Linked DNA regions of Homo sapiens: region 2 is linked to region 1. A link means that fine-mapping ties the variant in region 1 to the expression of a gene that starts in the linked region. Tissue or cell type: subcutaneous fat. Region 1 holds a variant in brackets; the other region holds the start of a gene. All regions are shown on one strand. Distances are between the middles of the regions.

Evidence for each region. PIP is the estimated chance that this variant, and not a neighbour inherited with it, causes the effect.
Region 2: NTN5 starts here. The variant in region 1 is fine-mapped to the expression of NTN5 in subcutaneous fat (FUSION, PIP 0.90).

What each region holds. Positions count from the first base shown.
Region 1 is chr19:48,752,427-48,760,426 of GRCh38, reverse strand. FUT1 (fucosyltransferase 1 (H blood group)) reads left to right here and starts at 7,786. Exons shown (of 2, transcript NM_001384359.1): 1 at 7,786-7,937. FGF21 (fibroblast growth factor 21) reads right to left here and starts at 4,903. Exons shown (of 4, transcript NM_019113.4): 1 at 4,643-4,903; 2 at 3,956-4,536; 3 at 3,398-3,501; 4 at 2,097-2,497. The coding sequence starts at 4,190. The coding sequence ends at 2,207. RefSeq lists cis regulatory regions at 3,122-3,128, 4,936-4,944, 4,972-4,984, 4,619-5,179, enhancers at 3,952-4,815, 4,816-5,681, 6,998-7,584, promoters at 4,223-4,990, 4,936-5,027, 4,459-5,065, 4,223-5,191, 1,761-5,300 and a silencer at 7,700-7,749. The variant A/C (reference allele first, on the strand shown) is at 3,711.
Region 2 is chr19:48,668,672-48,676,671 of GRCh38, reverse strand. NTN5 (netrin 5) reads left to right here and starts at 3,655. Exons shown (of 7, transcript NM_145807.4): 1 at 3,655-3,740; 2 at 5,666-6,316. The coding sequence starts at 5,686. It overlaps LOC105372431 (a long non-coding RNA gene), which reads left to right. Exons shown (of 3, transcript XR_936016.3): 2 at 1,041-1,431; 3 at 2,885-3,526. It also overlaps the pseudogene SEC1P. RefSeq lists a silencer at 1,027-1,176 and enhancers at 802-1,449, 1,450-2,098.

The sequences.
Region 1 (8,000 bases):
TGGGTGGCAGAGAGAGACTCTGTCTCAAAAATAAACAAACAAACAAACAAATAAATAAAAGTAAACGCCGGGTGCAGTATCTCACGCCTGTAATCCCAGCACTTTGAGAGGCCAAGGTGGGCAGATCACTTGAGGTCAAGAATTTGAGACCAGCCTGACCAACATGGTGAAACCCCGTCTCTACTAAAAACACAAAAATTAGCTGGCCATAGTGGTGGTGCCTGTAATCCTAGCTACTCCAGAGCTGAGAATCGCTTAAGCCCAGGAGACAGAGGTGGCAGTGAACCAAGATTGTGCCACTGCACTCCAGCCTGGGCAACAGAGCGAGACTCTGTCTCAAAAAACAAGCAGCCAGGCGTGGTGGCTCACGCCTATAACCCCAGCACTTTGGGAGGCTGAGGCGGGCGGATCACCTGAGGTGGGGAGTTCGAGACCAGCCTGACCAACATGGAGAAACCCCATCTCTACTAAAAATACAAAATTATCTGGGCATGGTGGCGCATGCCCATAATCCCAGCTACTCGGGAGGCTGAGGCAGGAGAATCACTTGAAGCCGGGAGGCGGAGATTGTGGTGAGCCGAGATTGTGCCATTGCACTCCAGCCTTGGCAACAAGAGGGAAACTCTGTCTCAAAACAAACAAACAAGCAATCAAACAAACAAACGGGTGTGGTGGCGCTTGTCTGTAGTCCCAGCTACTCGGGAGGCTAAGGCAGGAGAATCGCTTGAACCCAGGAGACGGAGGTTGCAGGGAGCCGAGATTGTGCCACTGCACTTGGGCCTGGTGACAGAGCGAGACTCCATCTCAGAAAAAAAACAAAATAAGATAAATAAATAAATAAATATTAAAAAGTTCATAAGGACCCAGATGGAAGAATTCCAGGTTTCAGCTCCTTTTCCTGAGAACCCAAACTCCCACCCTCCAGCCCCTTTTTTCTCAGACCAGGATGCCTAAGTCTGCAGTCCCCAGTTCTCCTGTGATCCAGGTGTCCAGATGTCCAGCCCACTGATTCCCCAGAACTTGGGTGTTACACTAGCCCCAAACCTACTCCAGGACCCAGGAGTCCTTGTCCCAGATTTGAGGCCCAACAGATCTCATTCCTGCTGCTAAATGATGCCAGAAAACTACATCTCCCATGAGGATGTGAGTGTGCTGTGTCACCTCGTAAAAGCTCCCCTGTTATCGAGGTAGCTCTATGAAATAGTTACACAACGCTCACACAAGTTGAGGGGTTGTAGAAAGAAGTCCTGCTCTTTCATTTTATTTTTATATTTATTTATTTATTTATTTATTTATTTATTTTTTTGAGATGGAATCTCGCTCTGTGGCCTGGGCTGGAGTGCAGTGGCGCGATCTCGGCTCACTGCAAGCTCCGCCTCCCGCATTCACGCCATTCTGCCTCAGCCTCCGGAGTAGCTGGGACTACAGGCGCCCGCCACCACGCCCAGCTAATTTTGTTTTTGTATTTTTAGTAGAGACGGGGTTTCATCGTATTAGCCAGGATAGTCTCAATCTCCTGACCTCGTGATCCACCTGCCTCGGCCTCCCAAAGTGCTGGGATTACAGGCGTAAGCCACCACTCCCGGCCAGTCTTGTCCTTTCAGAGAGCAGGGATAGTCCACAGTCCCTGGGGACACTTTAGCAGAGTAGAAAAGTGAGGCTGGGCTGGGCACAGTGACTCAAGCCTGTAATCCCAGCACTTTGGGAGGCCAAGGCAGGCAGGTCATGAAGTCAAGAGATGGAGAGCATCCTGGCCAACATGGCGAAACCCTGTCTCTACTAAAATTACAAAATTAGCTGGGTGTGGTGGCGCACGCCTGTAATCACAGCTACTCGGGTGGCTGAGGCAGGAGAATTGCTTGAACCTGGGAGGCGGAGGTTGGAGTGAGCCAAGATCGCGCCACTGCACTCCAGCCTGGGTGACAGAGCGAGACTCCGTCTCAAAAAAAAAAAAAGAAAAGAAAAGAAAAAAGTGAGGCCCAGTGGGAAGCCAGGACCCTCGGACCACGTGAGGGGAGGTGTAGAGGGGATTGTCCGGGCCAAGGGAGACAAAACAGCTGCCATGTCTTCCCTCAGACACTCACACATGCTCATTCTTATCCTCCTCTGGAACTCTTTATTATCTCAAGTAAGAAAAATAAAAAAATAAATAAGATAAATAACCTAATAAATAAAGAGGAGATGTCATAGTAAACAGCCTCTGGCTTCAGGAAGCGTAGCTGGGGCTTCGGCCCTGGGAAGGTCCCACCATGCTCAGAGGGTCCGAGGAGCCCACATCGGGGGGCTGGGGGGCCAGGATTCCGGGTGGCTCCGGGAGTGCGGGGGGCAGGCCTGGTAGTGGCAGGAAGCGAGCTGGTCCTCGGGGTGCAGGGTCCCGGTGTGGGGACTTGTTCCCTGGCAGGTGCAGCGGGAGGCCGTGGGCTTCGGACTGGTAAACATTGTATCCGTCCTCAAGAAGCAGCTCCCGGAAGCTGCAGGCCTCAGGGTCAAAGTGGAGCTAGGGGACAAAAACAGGATCAGAGACAGGGTTCCTCTGTTTTCCTGATGTAAGACCCAGGATCCAGGCCCCAGCCCTGCCTCCCTCAGACCCAGGGGTCCAGGCCCCCAGCGCCTCCTCCCTCAGACCCAGGGGTCCAGACCCTAGTTTCTCCTCCATCCGACCCAGGAGTCCAGGCCCCCAGCGCCTCCTCCCTCAGACCCGGGGTTCCAGGCCCCAGCCTCTCCTCCCTCAGACCCGGGGTTCCAGGCCCCAGCCTCTCCTCCCTCAGACCCGGGGTTCCAGGCCCCAGCCCCTCCTCCCTCAGACCCAGGGGTCCAGGCCCCCAGCCCCTCCTCCCTCAGACCCAGGAGTCCAGGCCCCCAGCCCCTCCTCTAGGAAACAAAACAGCAAGGCAGGTTTTGTTTTTTACCCCAGGGCTCTCCTGCAGGGACCTGCCTCCCAGTTCAGACTTCACAGAGAACATTCCAGCCCTCGGAGCCATCAGTGCTCTCTCAGGCCAGGCGGGGTGTCTCCCTAGCACTCAAGGTCCTGGTCACTTTACTGGCCATGGCTTCCCCGAGTGTCCCTGTGCCCAGCATGAGCCGTGCACACAGGGGCCGTGTGGGCAGGAGCAGGGGTTACTGAATCACGAGACTCCCAATAACCTGAGCCTCAGGCCGCTCCAGCATCCACACATCACATGATTGAGGTCACTGGCGCCCCGGCCTGGGCCTCAGTTTCCTCATCTTGCAAACACTGATGACAACTTCAACCTCCAAATGTTGCAGCTGGGGGCGTGCAGAGCAAATAGAATCAAGTCTGGCTCCGGGGGGGATGAGCAAGACAAGGCACCCCAGGCTGTGAGGGCGACATATAGGAGGAGCATGGTGGGTGGTGAGGAGGGTCCTGGAAACTCACCGATCCATACAGGGCCCCATCTGGCCGCTGGCACAGGAACCTGGATGTCTTGACTCCCAAGATTTGAATAACTCCCGGCTTCAAGGCTTTCAGCTGCAGGAGACCTAAGGGGTGAAAGCGATAAGGTGGTTCGAGGACCTCTCCCACCCGGGACTGTCCCACCACCCGACTCTGTCCCACCATCCGGCTCTGTCCCAGCCCTGGGAGTCCAAGCCCACAGCCTACCTCCTCCCTCAGACCCAGGAGAAGCCCAAGCCAAAGCCCCCTCCCAACTCAGACCCAAGAGTCCAGGACCCCAGCCCTTCCTCCTTCA[A/C]ACCCAAGAGTCCAGACCCCCAGCCCCTCCTCCCTCAGACCCAGGGGTCCAGACCCAGCCCCTCCTCCCTCAGACCCAGGGGCCCAGATCCCCAGCCCCTCCTCCCTCAGACCCAGGAGTCCAGATCCCCAGCCCCTCCTCCCTCAGACCCAGGGGCCAAGGCCCCCAGCCCCTCCTCCCTCAGACCCAGGAATCCAGACCCACAGCCCCTCCTCCCTCAGACCCAGGCTCTGGCCCACACTCACTTTCGGGGCTCTGGTCAGCAGCGCCCCCCACCGTCCCATCCTCCCTGATCTCCAGGTGGGCTTCTGTCTGCTGGGCATCATCTGTGTAGAGGTACCGCTGCCGGACTTGGCCCCCGAATTGCAGGAGAGGACTGGAGTCAGGGATGGGGTGTGCCTGGCAGGCTCCCAGCAGAAGACCAGCCAGCACAGAAACCCACAGTCCTGAGTGCTCGAACCCGGTCTCGTCCGAGTCCATCAATGGCTCGGGTCCTCAGGTGATCTCCGGGGTGTGAGCTCGGAGAAGCTGAGTGGTTTAGAATTGGTGCCAGATTCCAGTTGTCCAGGTGAGTAGACTCAGGTGGCCTGAGTGCCTGGCTCCTCTTTCGGCTGGATCCTCAGCTGACAGAACACCCTTGTTTTTTGGGATAGATGCAGAAGCTCCAGAATTTATACCCAGACAGGCCCGCCCAATCACCCTCCCTGCGCCTGAACCATGATATTTGACCCATTTGGCAGGAGCTACAGAATTCCATCGTGGCAAGGGCAGCCTGAATGGATGATGTAACCTGGGGTCCTTTCAATGGAGGGCCAGACTCCTGGGTCTAGGGGATGAGGGAGGGGAGGATCGGGTTAGCTGGGACCCAGGTGAAAGGGGCTGGGGGCCCACATTCCTGAGTCTCAGAGAGAAGGATCTGGGGTCTCAAGCACCTGAGTCGGAGGGAGGAGGGGTGCTGGGCTCCTGGAAAAACCACCTCTTGGACCATCTATGCAGATCACGCAGAACAAGAGAAATTTCTGCGCCCCATCTGAATTTCTAAGTTTGGGGGGAGGGCGTGATCTGACACTGAGGTTCCTTGATCCTCAGCAAGGCGGCAATTGCTGTATGAAAGAAGCGACCGCATCTGAGACACAAGTATCCTGCCTTGGAAGCCTCTCACCTGGCCGTGGGCCAACCTCAACCTCATCTGTCCCTGCTCAGATGCTCAGACCCTGGACATCCCAGCCTCCTCCTCCCTGATGCAATCCTGGTGTTTCTTTCACCAGAGAAGCCATCCCAGGCCCAGGCAGGTGCTCCTGAAATAACCTGGGGGGAGGGGTGGCTGAAAGTCCCTGACTGGAGTTGGCAGCCAAGCCAGGCCCTGGAGTGGGCACCCAGAGGGAAGACAGGTTGGCTAATTTCCTGGAGCCCCTAAGGGTGCAAGGGTAGGCCTTCTGTGTCTGAGGGAGGAGGGCTGGGGCTCTGGACTCCTGGGTCTGAGGGAGGAGGGGTGGGGGGCCTGGACTCCTGGGTCTGAGGGAGGAGGGTCTGGGCCTGTACTCCTGGATCTGAGGGAGGAGGGGCTGGGGAACTTGGGCTCCTGGGTCTGAGGGAGGAGGGAGCTTTGGTCTGGACTCCTGGGTCTGAGGGAGTAGGGGCTAGGGATCTGGACTCGTGGGTGTGAGGAAGGAGGGGCTGGGGTCCTGGACTCCTGGGTCTGAGGAAGGAGGGGCAGGGGGCTTGGACTCCTGGGTCTGAGGAAGGAGGGGCCGGGAGCCTGGACTCCTAAGTCTGAGGGAGGAGGGTCTGGGGGCCTGGACTGCTGGGTGTGAGCAGAAGGGTCTGGGTGCTGGGAGTCCCGAGCCTGGGGAGATGATGGTTAAACTTCTGGGAATCAAGTCAAACTCCTGAGTCTTTGACATTGATGTATCTTGAATGGGAGGGTCAGTCTGTGGGGAAGGATTACCCAGGTGCCGAGGCAAGAGACTGAAGGCACAAACTGTTTCAGTATAATAAAGAAAATAGTTAGAATAAGAATAGTTATCATACAAATTAGATATAGAGATGATCATGGACAGTATCAATCATTAGTGTAAACATTATTAATCATTAGCTATTACTTTTATTCTTTGTTGTATAACTAATATAACCAGGAAACAACCGGTGGGTATAGGGTCAGGTACTGAAGGGACATTGTGAGAAGTGACCTAGAAGGCAAGAGGTGAGCCTTCTGTCACACCGGCATAAGGGCCTCTTGAGGGCTCCTTGGTCAAGCGGGAACGCCAGTGTCTGGGAAGGCACCCGTTACTCAGCAGACCACGAAAGGGAATCTCCTTTTCTTGGAGGAGTCAGGGAACACTCTGCTCCACCAGCTTCTTGTGGGAGGCTGGGTATTATCTAGGCCTGCCCGCAGTCATCCTGCTGTGCTGTGCTTCAATGGTCACGCTCCTTGTCCTCTTGCATTTTCCTCCCGTACTCCTGGTTCCTCTTTGAAGTTCGTAGTAGATAGCGGTAGAAGAAATAGTGAAAGCCTTTTTTTTTTTTTTTTTGAGGCGGAGTCTCGCTCTGTCCCCCAGGCTGGAGTGCAGTGGCGTGATCTCGGCTCACTGCAATCTCCGCCTCCTGGGTTCACACCATTCTCCTGCCTCACCCTCCCAAATAGCTAGGACTACAGGCGCCCTCCACCACGCGCCCGGATAATTTTTTGTATTTTTAGTAGAGACAGGGTTTCACCGTGTTAGCCAGGATGGCCTCCACCTCCTGACCTTGTGATCCGCCCGCCTCAGCCTCCCAAAGTGCTGGGATTACAGGCGTGAGCCACCGCGCCCGCCCGAAATAGTGAAAGTCTTAAAGTCTTTGATCTTTCTTATAAGTGCAGAGAAGAAAACGCTGACATATGCTGCCTTCTCTTTCTGCTTCGGCTGCCTAAAAGGGAAGGGCCCCCTGTCCCATGATCACGTGACTTGCTTGACCTTATCAGTCATTTGGACGACTCACCCTCCTTATCCTGCCCCCCCTTGTCTTGTATACAATAAATATCAGCGCGCCCAGCCATTCGGGGCCACTACCGGTCTCTGCGTCTTGATGGTAGTGGTCCCCCGGGCCCAGCTGTTTTCTCTTTATCTCTTTGTCTTGTGTCTTTATTTCTTACAATCTCTCCTCTCCTCACAGGGGAAGAACACCCACCCGCAAAGCCCCGTAGGGCTGGACCCTACGTTAGCCTGCCCTGCTCGGGGTTGGCGATGCTGGAGGTGGGCCTTGGACCAGAGAAAATGCTTTAATTAGGTGACAAGCGGGCAGAGGCCTTTGTCTCTGGCGCCGGCAGCCACGGCCCCCGCTGACGGCGTGGGAAACAGACCCTGTTCCACTCCGGTCTCCAGCCTTGGAATGGTTGCCTTCGTGCAGTGCAGGTCTGGAAAGTAGCAGTTTGGCACGGGACCCTAGAATTCCCCAAAAGGAGTGACTAGGGGCTGGGATTCTGGAATTTGAGTGTGGACGGTGAGGCGGGGGGTGTGGGAGATCGGAGACCCTGGTGGGCGCGGGAGCACCTGCAGGCTGGAGGCCCTCGCGCGCTCCGGCGGCAGCCTGGCAAACAGGTTCTCCATCCCCCAGGAGGACGCGGCAGAGGGCGGACGATCGCTCCACTCGCCGGGACCAGGTGCGGGGGCCCTGCCCAGCCGCTGGGGCGTGGCCAGGCTCGAAGCACCCAGGTGTCGGGGGCCGACTCTAAGCCCTGGCACCGGAAGAGAGAGGGCGGCGGATTGGACCTCCCGGCTCCAGCATTGCAACTGGGCGCTCCGTCTCCTGGTCCACGCAATGATGCTGCGGCTGCTCAGAAGCCAGGTAGCCTGCCCTGGGTGAAGCCTTCGCGCAGGTCAATGACGGGGCGGAGGGGCAGGGCGCGGTCCCCTGCATCCCCGATCTGGGGAGCGGTGGGCCCAGGGGCCATCGCCTTAGCCCCTGGCGCTGGGGCTCGGCGCCAAGTGACGGGCGGGGCTCCACCTTCCAGCCATCCGCCCGGCCCGGGAGGGCGGACGCTGCGAGACTCCCGGCCGCGCCCTCTCCTTCCTCTCCTCCCCAAGCCCTCGCTGCCAGTCCGGACAGGCTGCGCGGAGGGGAGGGCTGCCGGGCCGGATAGCCGGACGCCTGGCGTTCCAGGGGCGGCCGGATGTGGCCTGCCTTTGCGGAGGGTGCGCTCCGGCCACGAAAAGCGGACTGTGGATCTGCCACCTGCAAGCAGCTCGGGTAAGTGGGGACTGCCCCACTCAGTTGTTCCTGGGACCCAGGAACAACTCCTTCAGAACCAGG
Region 2 (8,000 bases), 84 kb after region 1:
CCCTGACCACTGGGCCTGACTGGGCTCCAAGGACCTCGGTCCCGGTCCTCGCCGTGGGATGGATGGTCCCTTCTCCGGGGGCTGCTCTTTCCGAGTCTCCTCCAGCTCTCCCCAGGGCTCCCAGAAGGTCCTCTGCTCCCAGCCTCTACCATGTCCTGATCGGCTTTCTCTTCTCCCCTTGTCCACTCCTCTGACCAATGTCCTATGGTTTCCCTGTGGCCACTCCAATGGCTACAGCTCAGCAGTCATCCCTTCACCCCCTCCCTCCCACCCCATTCCTGCTGAAGCCCTGGTTGGCATGGGCTCACCCCTAAAACTTCTGGCTTCTGCCTCACCCCTCCCGGCTCCCCATCTCTCCCTCCGCCTGTCCTCTTAAACATCGGGGGCCTACAGGCCTCTTCAACTGTCATCCTCCTCTATTCCAGGGCTCCTCATTTGGTTCATCTGGCCCTTCTGAGAAGCCTGAACAATCTGGGGCCCTCCAGGCCTCTTCAGCTGTCATCCTCCTCTATTCCAGGGCTCCTCATTTGGTTCATCTGACCCTTCTGAGAAGCCTGAACACTCTGGGGCCCTCCTTGAAAGTCTCGTGTGGGTCCCCAGCAAGGCCAGCTGGCCTAAGGCCTAAGAAAAATGCTCCTGGTGCTGCTTTAGTTTGCAAAAAGTGAATTAAATCTGCCCAAGCCTTTTTTCACTGAGCTGGTGAAAACTGTGTCCCAAACATGATCTTGCCATCCACTCAACTCAGGGTCCTGCCCCACGGAGAAGGAGCTGAGCTCTGAGCCCAGCTGGAGCCCCCAGGCAGGTCCCAAGGCTAGAGCTGGGGTCAGTGGGGGTGCAGGGCAGGGACAGGAGCCTGGGTCACTGGCCAAGGGAAACCAGCTCAGGACAAGGGTGCCCCCCGCGGGGTCCGCCTTCATTTTGTGTGACTCGTGCAGTTGCGCTGAGACAGGCCCCACGCTTGCTTTAATGATCTGGTGTTGCCGTCTTAAAATCCTTCATAAATTCTAAACAAGGGGTCCTGTGTCTGCATTTTCCCCCAGGCCCTGCAGATCAAGCAGTGGGTACCGCGGCTGCTCTGGCTTCTCCTGGAATCTCAGGTGCTCCCTCTTGTGGCTGTTCTCAGCCTAGACAACCAGAAAGCCGCAGAAAAGCACCAGCCAAGGCCGAGGCTGCGAGGGTGCTGGCGGGCAGGCCCATCACGGGGCTGGCTGTCCTGGTCCGCGATTCCTTGTCAGCCATTTTCCTCAGGGGGAGCGGCAAACGCCAACCTGGACTGAACTCATCTGGGGACAACCCTGGCTTGGAGGAGGGTCATGTGGCTATTTGCAGACTTTACTTCTCTTACTGTGAACACCCATGTGCTCTGCTGCCTAAAACATAACATGTTTGACAATGTGATGCGGCCCAGACCTACCATGGATGCCATGTCACGTACGTACTATGCATCCGACAACAGGGCCAGGAAGCAGAAGGTTCCGGAACACGACTTTCCCAGAGAGCTCAGATAAGAACCCGTGGGCATGTCAGCTCATTCAGTCCTCATGACCCCCTCCGCCCACCATGAGGAAGGTCCATTCTTTCTTCCTCATTTAACAGATGAGGAAATGAAGGCACAGAGAGGTTAAGAAGCTTGTTCTCGGTCACACAGCTAGGACAGAGGTGGATTTGAACCCAGGCAGTATGGCTGGGGTTACCATCCTGGCCTTTTTGAACATGTCCGGGAGGGCAGGCCCTACCCAGCCACACAATGCCCAGTAACTCCTGCGGGTGACCTGCCCTGCCTCGTGGAGACTCCGTTATATCTGGGCCACCAAGGCAGGGGTTAGAGGTCTGTGTGAGCCCAGCACTGAGGTTCTCTCTGGGTTGAACCCACCTCAGAGATGTGCCTTGGGCAGGCCTGGCCTTCTGTAGAAGCTGTGAGGGTGAAGGTCTCCAGCCCTTAAAGAACTCTCCCCAACAAAAAAAACAGTCTCCTTCCCAGCTTGGGGCACTATGTGCTCGGCTGTGGCAGCTCCGTCTGTTCTTCCCCGCCTGCCCCCGGGCACCCGCAGGGGCGCCCATCAACTCAGGCAGCTCAAGCTGCAAGGAACAAAAGCTTCCCTCCAGGAGCCGGAGCTTGAGACTTCGCCCAGGTGGGGAGGAAGACGCAGCGAGACCTAAGCCTTCTTCCTCAGTTTTGTGTGGCAGCAAAGCTGGGTTCTGTGCTGGCGGTGGGCTCAGCACAAATGCCCCTCCGCATCACCCCACTTACATCTGCAATCCCCGGGCCCCCGTGGCCGCCCCCCCCACTTGCTTTGCTCCAAGGCACTTGGCACCTTCCAACAACCTAGAGCACAGAAGGACCTGCGCTGCTGGGGTCTCCCCCTCCCTCTCTGGACACTGAGCCTGATGGGGCAGGGGTCTGTGTTCCCAGCGCGAACCCCCGGCAAAGTCCCATACAGGGGGAGCTCAGGCAGGGTCAGCGGAGGGACCTGCGCCTGAATCCCGAAGTTCCACTCTGACTCACACAGCCTGGGCCCCCAGCTCTGACATGCCCCCTCTGATGGGGGGCGTCTCAGCCCCATTCCATCCTCCTGCAGCTGATGCACCTCCCAGCTTTCGGAGTGACTCCCTTCTTTCAAATCCGATGTCCCTGTCCTGCTCCTGCCAAATCTGGCCCCCTCCAACGTGGTACCTAAGGGTCCAGAGTCGAGGGTCGCCTTTGCTGTGCCCTCGCACCCCCTGGGGGCGGGCCTGGGGCAGTGGGTCCCAAGCCTGTCAGGATTGGGCCCACGCTACACCACGATAAACGCTGGGGCCACCCAGGGCAGCAGGTGCCGCGCCCCAACTCCATGAGGCCCTTGCTTTTCTCAGCGGGAAGTGACAGAAAACATTATTTTTCTAGTCAACCCATTCGGAGATGGAATAGAACAGACAGCAACATTCGCATGAAAATGTCACGATGAAAGCACTGAGGACTCGCAGGACACCAGCGGCACTGGGGAGGTGCTTTTGAGCTTGGTCCCCCGCACCCCGGGGGTCCCCGCCTTCTCCCTCTGCCGCATGAGAAACACTGGGGCCCAGGTGTTCTCAGCTCATTTGTCGCCTTCCCCACCATCTTAGAAAGCGACTGAGGTCTTTTGAATTCCAGGGGCTGGTCTGAACCTTCCAAGAGCACAGATTTTACTGACCTTAAGGCTCGGTGAACCCACAGCTGACAAAAGGTTCCAGAGAGGAGGAGGAGGGGCTGGCTTGGGGTCACGCAGCCAGAGGCAGGGGCTGAGCAAAGTTTCCAACAGCGATTGTCTCCCAAAGGTCAGCCCCTGCCCGATCGCGATGGCGGCCACCACAAGGCGGGGCTGAGCCAGTGGGCAGGGGTGGAGTGGGATGGAGCGGGACCCCCGACTGACAGCCTCCCGTCCTACCTGCGGTGAGCCTCCTAGGCCAGGCTGCTCGGGGCTGTCCTGCTGCTGGACCGCCGGGGGCAACGGCACTCACGTCCCACACCGTTGCGGGTGGCCTGGCTGGCAGGGGTCCCTGTGGGGATAGCGTGGCTGCGGTTGGTGAGGGATTGGGGTGGGAGGGGGGTGGCGGTGTTAGATTCTGCGGGCTCTGCTCTGAGCCCCCGCCCAGCCCAGAAACCCCACTAGCCTGGGGCCTGAGAACAGCCACGCCACTCCCTCCTGAGAGCCCACCGCGCCACAGCTTGGAGGAAGAGCCTGCGGGGAACTGGCTGCAGGACGCTCTCTTCTTGAGTGCAGGTTTGGCCAATGTCGGGGCCTCAGGGCTCGGGTTGGGGGGTGCATGCCAAGAGCCAGGGAAAGGAAGCCTGGGTCCCAGATGGACCCCAGGCCGCCCAGGCAGGCCTCCTATGAGTCTGCTGGGAGCATGGCTGGACTCTTTCTTAAAGAGGGGTATGGGCTCTCTGTGGGCCACGACTGGTTTCTGGATCCCCCAGGAACACTAGGGAACTCACAGCCTGGTTCCTCAAGGTGCTAAGGGCCAGAGGGTGCCACCCCCTGAACTATCCAGCAACTATCCAGAGAGAAAGGGGACATGGGGGACTGGCCCTTAACAGGATGCTGCTGAGGGCCAGGCAGGCGGCTGCCACCTGAGTGGGTGCAAAATGGCGCCAGGCTCCTTGGGAGGGCGGAGGGCGAGGCCTGTCATCTGGGCCAGGGGAGGCAGCGTCTGCATGTGGCCAACAGCAGTGGGGACATGGGCAGTGAGGCCAGGCTGGGGCAGGTGTGGCCCACCTCAACCGCCAGGGTGCCCCAGAGATGCCCAGCCCAGGGACATTCCTGGGCGCAGATTCAGAGCCAAGGGCCTGGAAAGGCTCCGAGGCCCCCAGTCCACAGTGAGCTCCTCACCAGAGGCTGCTGGCCCTGGAAGGGGAAAGTGGGGGCATTTCAGAGTCCAGTCCTTCCCAGCTCCTGCCATTCCTAGGGTCTGGGCTTCTGCCCCCACGGGCGCCCTGGCATCTGGCACCCCACCCTGTCCCAGCTCCTGCCTTCCTGCCTCTCTCCTCCTCATTACCCACCGCCCCCAACATCTGTTCCCCCATCTGCTCTGGGGAACTCTGGATGGGTGGAGAATGTGGGGACTCTGGTCTCCAGGCCCTGAGGCCCAGAATAGAGGGCAGGGTTGAGGTGAGCAGAAAGTCCCAGAACGCTAACTTCCGGTCCCCACACCCTGAGTTCTGAAGGGAACCCAGGTGTCTGCTTCCCCTGACCCCATGGGGATCCCACTGTCCCGCTCCCAAGCCCCAGAGCCACCCAGGTTCCAGCTCCCAGCATCCCTTTCCTCAGCTCAGCTCTCTGGGCTTTGCACTCGGGTGGGAAAGGGTTAAGGGTGGGGCGCTGGGGGTGGGTGGGCGGGTGGCAGGGAGGCTGGGTTGTTTGGTGATAATCCCCTTCCGTGCCCAGGGTGTGGAGAACAAGGTTAGGGCCCCATGTGGGAAAGGCAATGGCTCTGATCCCTGCAGGCCTGGGCCTCGGTCTCTCACTTCTGATCCCCCGCCAGACACCCCTAGCCTGTCCCCTTCCCTCCCCTCCCCAGGGCCTGCCAGGCTGGGTGTCTCTGAGCCCACCTGCCCACCTATCCCAGCCCCCAGGCAGTCCGAGCCTCAGTCTCCCAGCTCCCTGTGGCCTCTGGGTGCCTGGCCTCTGTCTCAGCCTCTCAGCCTCCTGTCTGTTCCTCTGTCTTTGCAGCAACTTCTCTGTGCCGAGCGCCTCCCCTAGGCTGACTGTCCTCTCTCTGCCTCTGTCCTGTCCTCTATTTCTTTGTGACTGAGTCTTCATCTGTCCCTAAGCCCCCTCTCCTGCCCAGCCCTGCTTGTCTCTGTGTCCCTCTCTAGGTTTCCACGTCTGCTGGCCTTGGCCAGCCCCTCTGCTCCAGCCGCTCACCGCTCCCCAGGGCCCCCTGCCCCTCGACACTGACGGATAACTCTGGGGTGTTAAGCTACGGATTAGTTCAGGCAAAATTCTCGATTTTGTCTGCGTTCTTTCCCCTTTGGGTTATGTAAACAGTAATTCTCCCCAGATGGAACTATTTTCCTCGCTTCCATGCAGCCGGGGAGGGGGCCTGGACGGGTTGGGGGTGGAATGCCCCAGTTCCACAGGACACCTCCAGGAGGGGTAGAGGCTGCGGCTGAGATCCCCAGCCCAGCCACCTCTCTTCCCTCCAGGTGCTGGCTCTGCTGTGACCATGCCCGTGACCTTTGCCCTCCTGCTCCTCCTGGGCCAGGCCACTGCGGACCCATGCTACGATCCACAGGGCCGCCCCCAATTCTGCCTCCCGCCAGTGACACAGCTGGCTGCCGTGGCGGCCTCCTGCCCTCAGGCCTGTGCCCTGTCCCCAGGAAACCACCTTGGCGCCAGGGAAACCTGCAATGGCAGCCTGACTTTGGCCCTGGGTGGCCCCTTCCTCCTGACATCTGTCAGCTTGCGCTTCTGTACCCCAGGACCCCCAGCCCTCATCCTGTCTGCTGCCTGGGCCTCAGGGGGTCCCTGGAGGCTGCTGTGGCACAGGCCCGCCTGGCCTGGGGCCTTAGGGGGCCCTGAAAGGGTGACCTTCCACTCCACACCAGGTCCTAAGGCCACTGTGGCGGCCAGCCACCTCCGTGTGGAGTTTGGGGGCCAGGCCGGGCTAGCGGCAGCTGGGCTGAGAGGCCGCTGCCAGTGTCATGGCCACGCTGCCCGCTGTGCCGCCCGTGCCCGGCCCCCCCGCTGCCACTGCCGCCACCATACCACTGGCCCGGGGTGCGAGAGCTGCCGCCCGTCCCATCGAGACTGGCCCTGGCGGCCTGCCACGCCCCGGCACCCCCACCCTTGCCTACGTGAGTCCTGCGCCCCTCACTCTCCCTGCCTTTGCCTGCCTGCCACTGGGTCCTTTGTCCCTACGGGAGCAGGATGTTCCCTTCCCTCGCTGGAACTGGGTGCTCCTTGCCTCTCACCCCAGTCTCAGACTCGGTCCCCTCATACCTCCTCCCTGCAGCCAGTCCTGTATCTCAGCCACACATGGGCCTGTCTGCTCATGAGGGGCTCAGCCTCTCCCCAACACTCATCAGCCTGTGATGATGGTGATGATGATGATGATGGTGTGATGGTGGTAATGGTGATGATGGTGGTGATGGTGGTGGTGATAATGGTGATGACTGTGGTGGTGATGGTGGTGGTGATGATGGTGGTGATGGTGATGGTGGTGGTGATGATGGTGATGATGGTGGTGATGGTGATGGTGGTGGTGATGGTGATGGTAGTGGTGATGATGGTGATGGTGGTGGTGGTGATGGTGGTGGTGATGGTGATGGTAGTGGTGATGATGGTGATGGTGGTGGTGATGGTAGTGGTGGTGATGGTGATGGTGGTGGTGGTGATGGTGATGATGGTGGTGATGGTGATGGTGGTGGTGTGATGGTGATGGTAGTGGTGACGATGGTGATGGTGGTGGTGATGGTGATGGTGGTGGTGGTGGTGATGGTGGTGATGGTGATGATGGTGGTGGTGATGGTGGTGATGATGGTGATGGTGGTGGTGTTGGTGGTGGTGATGGTGATGACTGGTGGTGGTGATGGTGGTGATGATGGTGGTGGTGGTGATGGTGGTCGTGGTGGTGATGGTGGTGATGGTGGTGGTGATGGTGGTGGTGGTGATGGTGGTGGTGATGGTGGTGGTGGTGATGATGGTCGTGGTGGTGGTGATGGTGATGGTGGTGATGGTGGTGATGATGGTGGTCATGGTGGTGATGGTGGTGGTGGTGGTGATGGTGGTGATGGTGGTGGTGATGGTGGTGGTGGTGATGGTGGTGGTGATGGTGGTGGTGGTGATGGTGGTGGTGATGGTGGTGGTGGTGATGGTGGTGGTGGTGATGGTGGTGGTGATGGTGGTGGTGGTGATGGTGGTGGTGATGGTGGTGGTGGTGATGATGGTCGTGGTGGTGGTGATGGTGGTGGTGGTGATGATGGTCGTGGTGGTGGTGGTGGTGATGGTGATGGTGGTGATGATGGTGGTCATGGTGGTGATGGTGGTGGTGGTGATGGTGGTGATGATGGTGATATGATGATGGTGGTGGTGGTGATGATGGTGATAGTGGTGATGGTGGTGGTGATGATGGTGATAGTGGTGGTGGTGGTGATGGTGATGGTGGTGGTGATGATAGTGATAGTGGTGATGATGGTGGTGATAGTGGTGATGATGGTGATGGTGATAGTGGTGATGATGGTGGTGATAGTGGTGATGATGATGGTGGTGGTGATGATGATGTAATAACAGTTTCCGAGCACCCATCCCAGGGCCTGGCTGGATGCAGGTACTTGGGTAATATTTATTGAACAGTTGTAGGGGAACAGGACAGCTGGATGGTACCTGACTCCTCAAACCAACCACAGGGGGAAAGTATTCGGTCATTAAACACATATTTATCAGTCACCTACGTGTGCCAGGCAGGGATGTCATCAGGCCCATTTTACAGATGAGGAGACTCAGGCCTAGAGTTCAGAAGTCCCCTGCACAAGGACACAC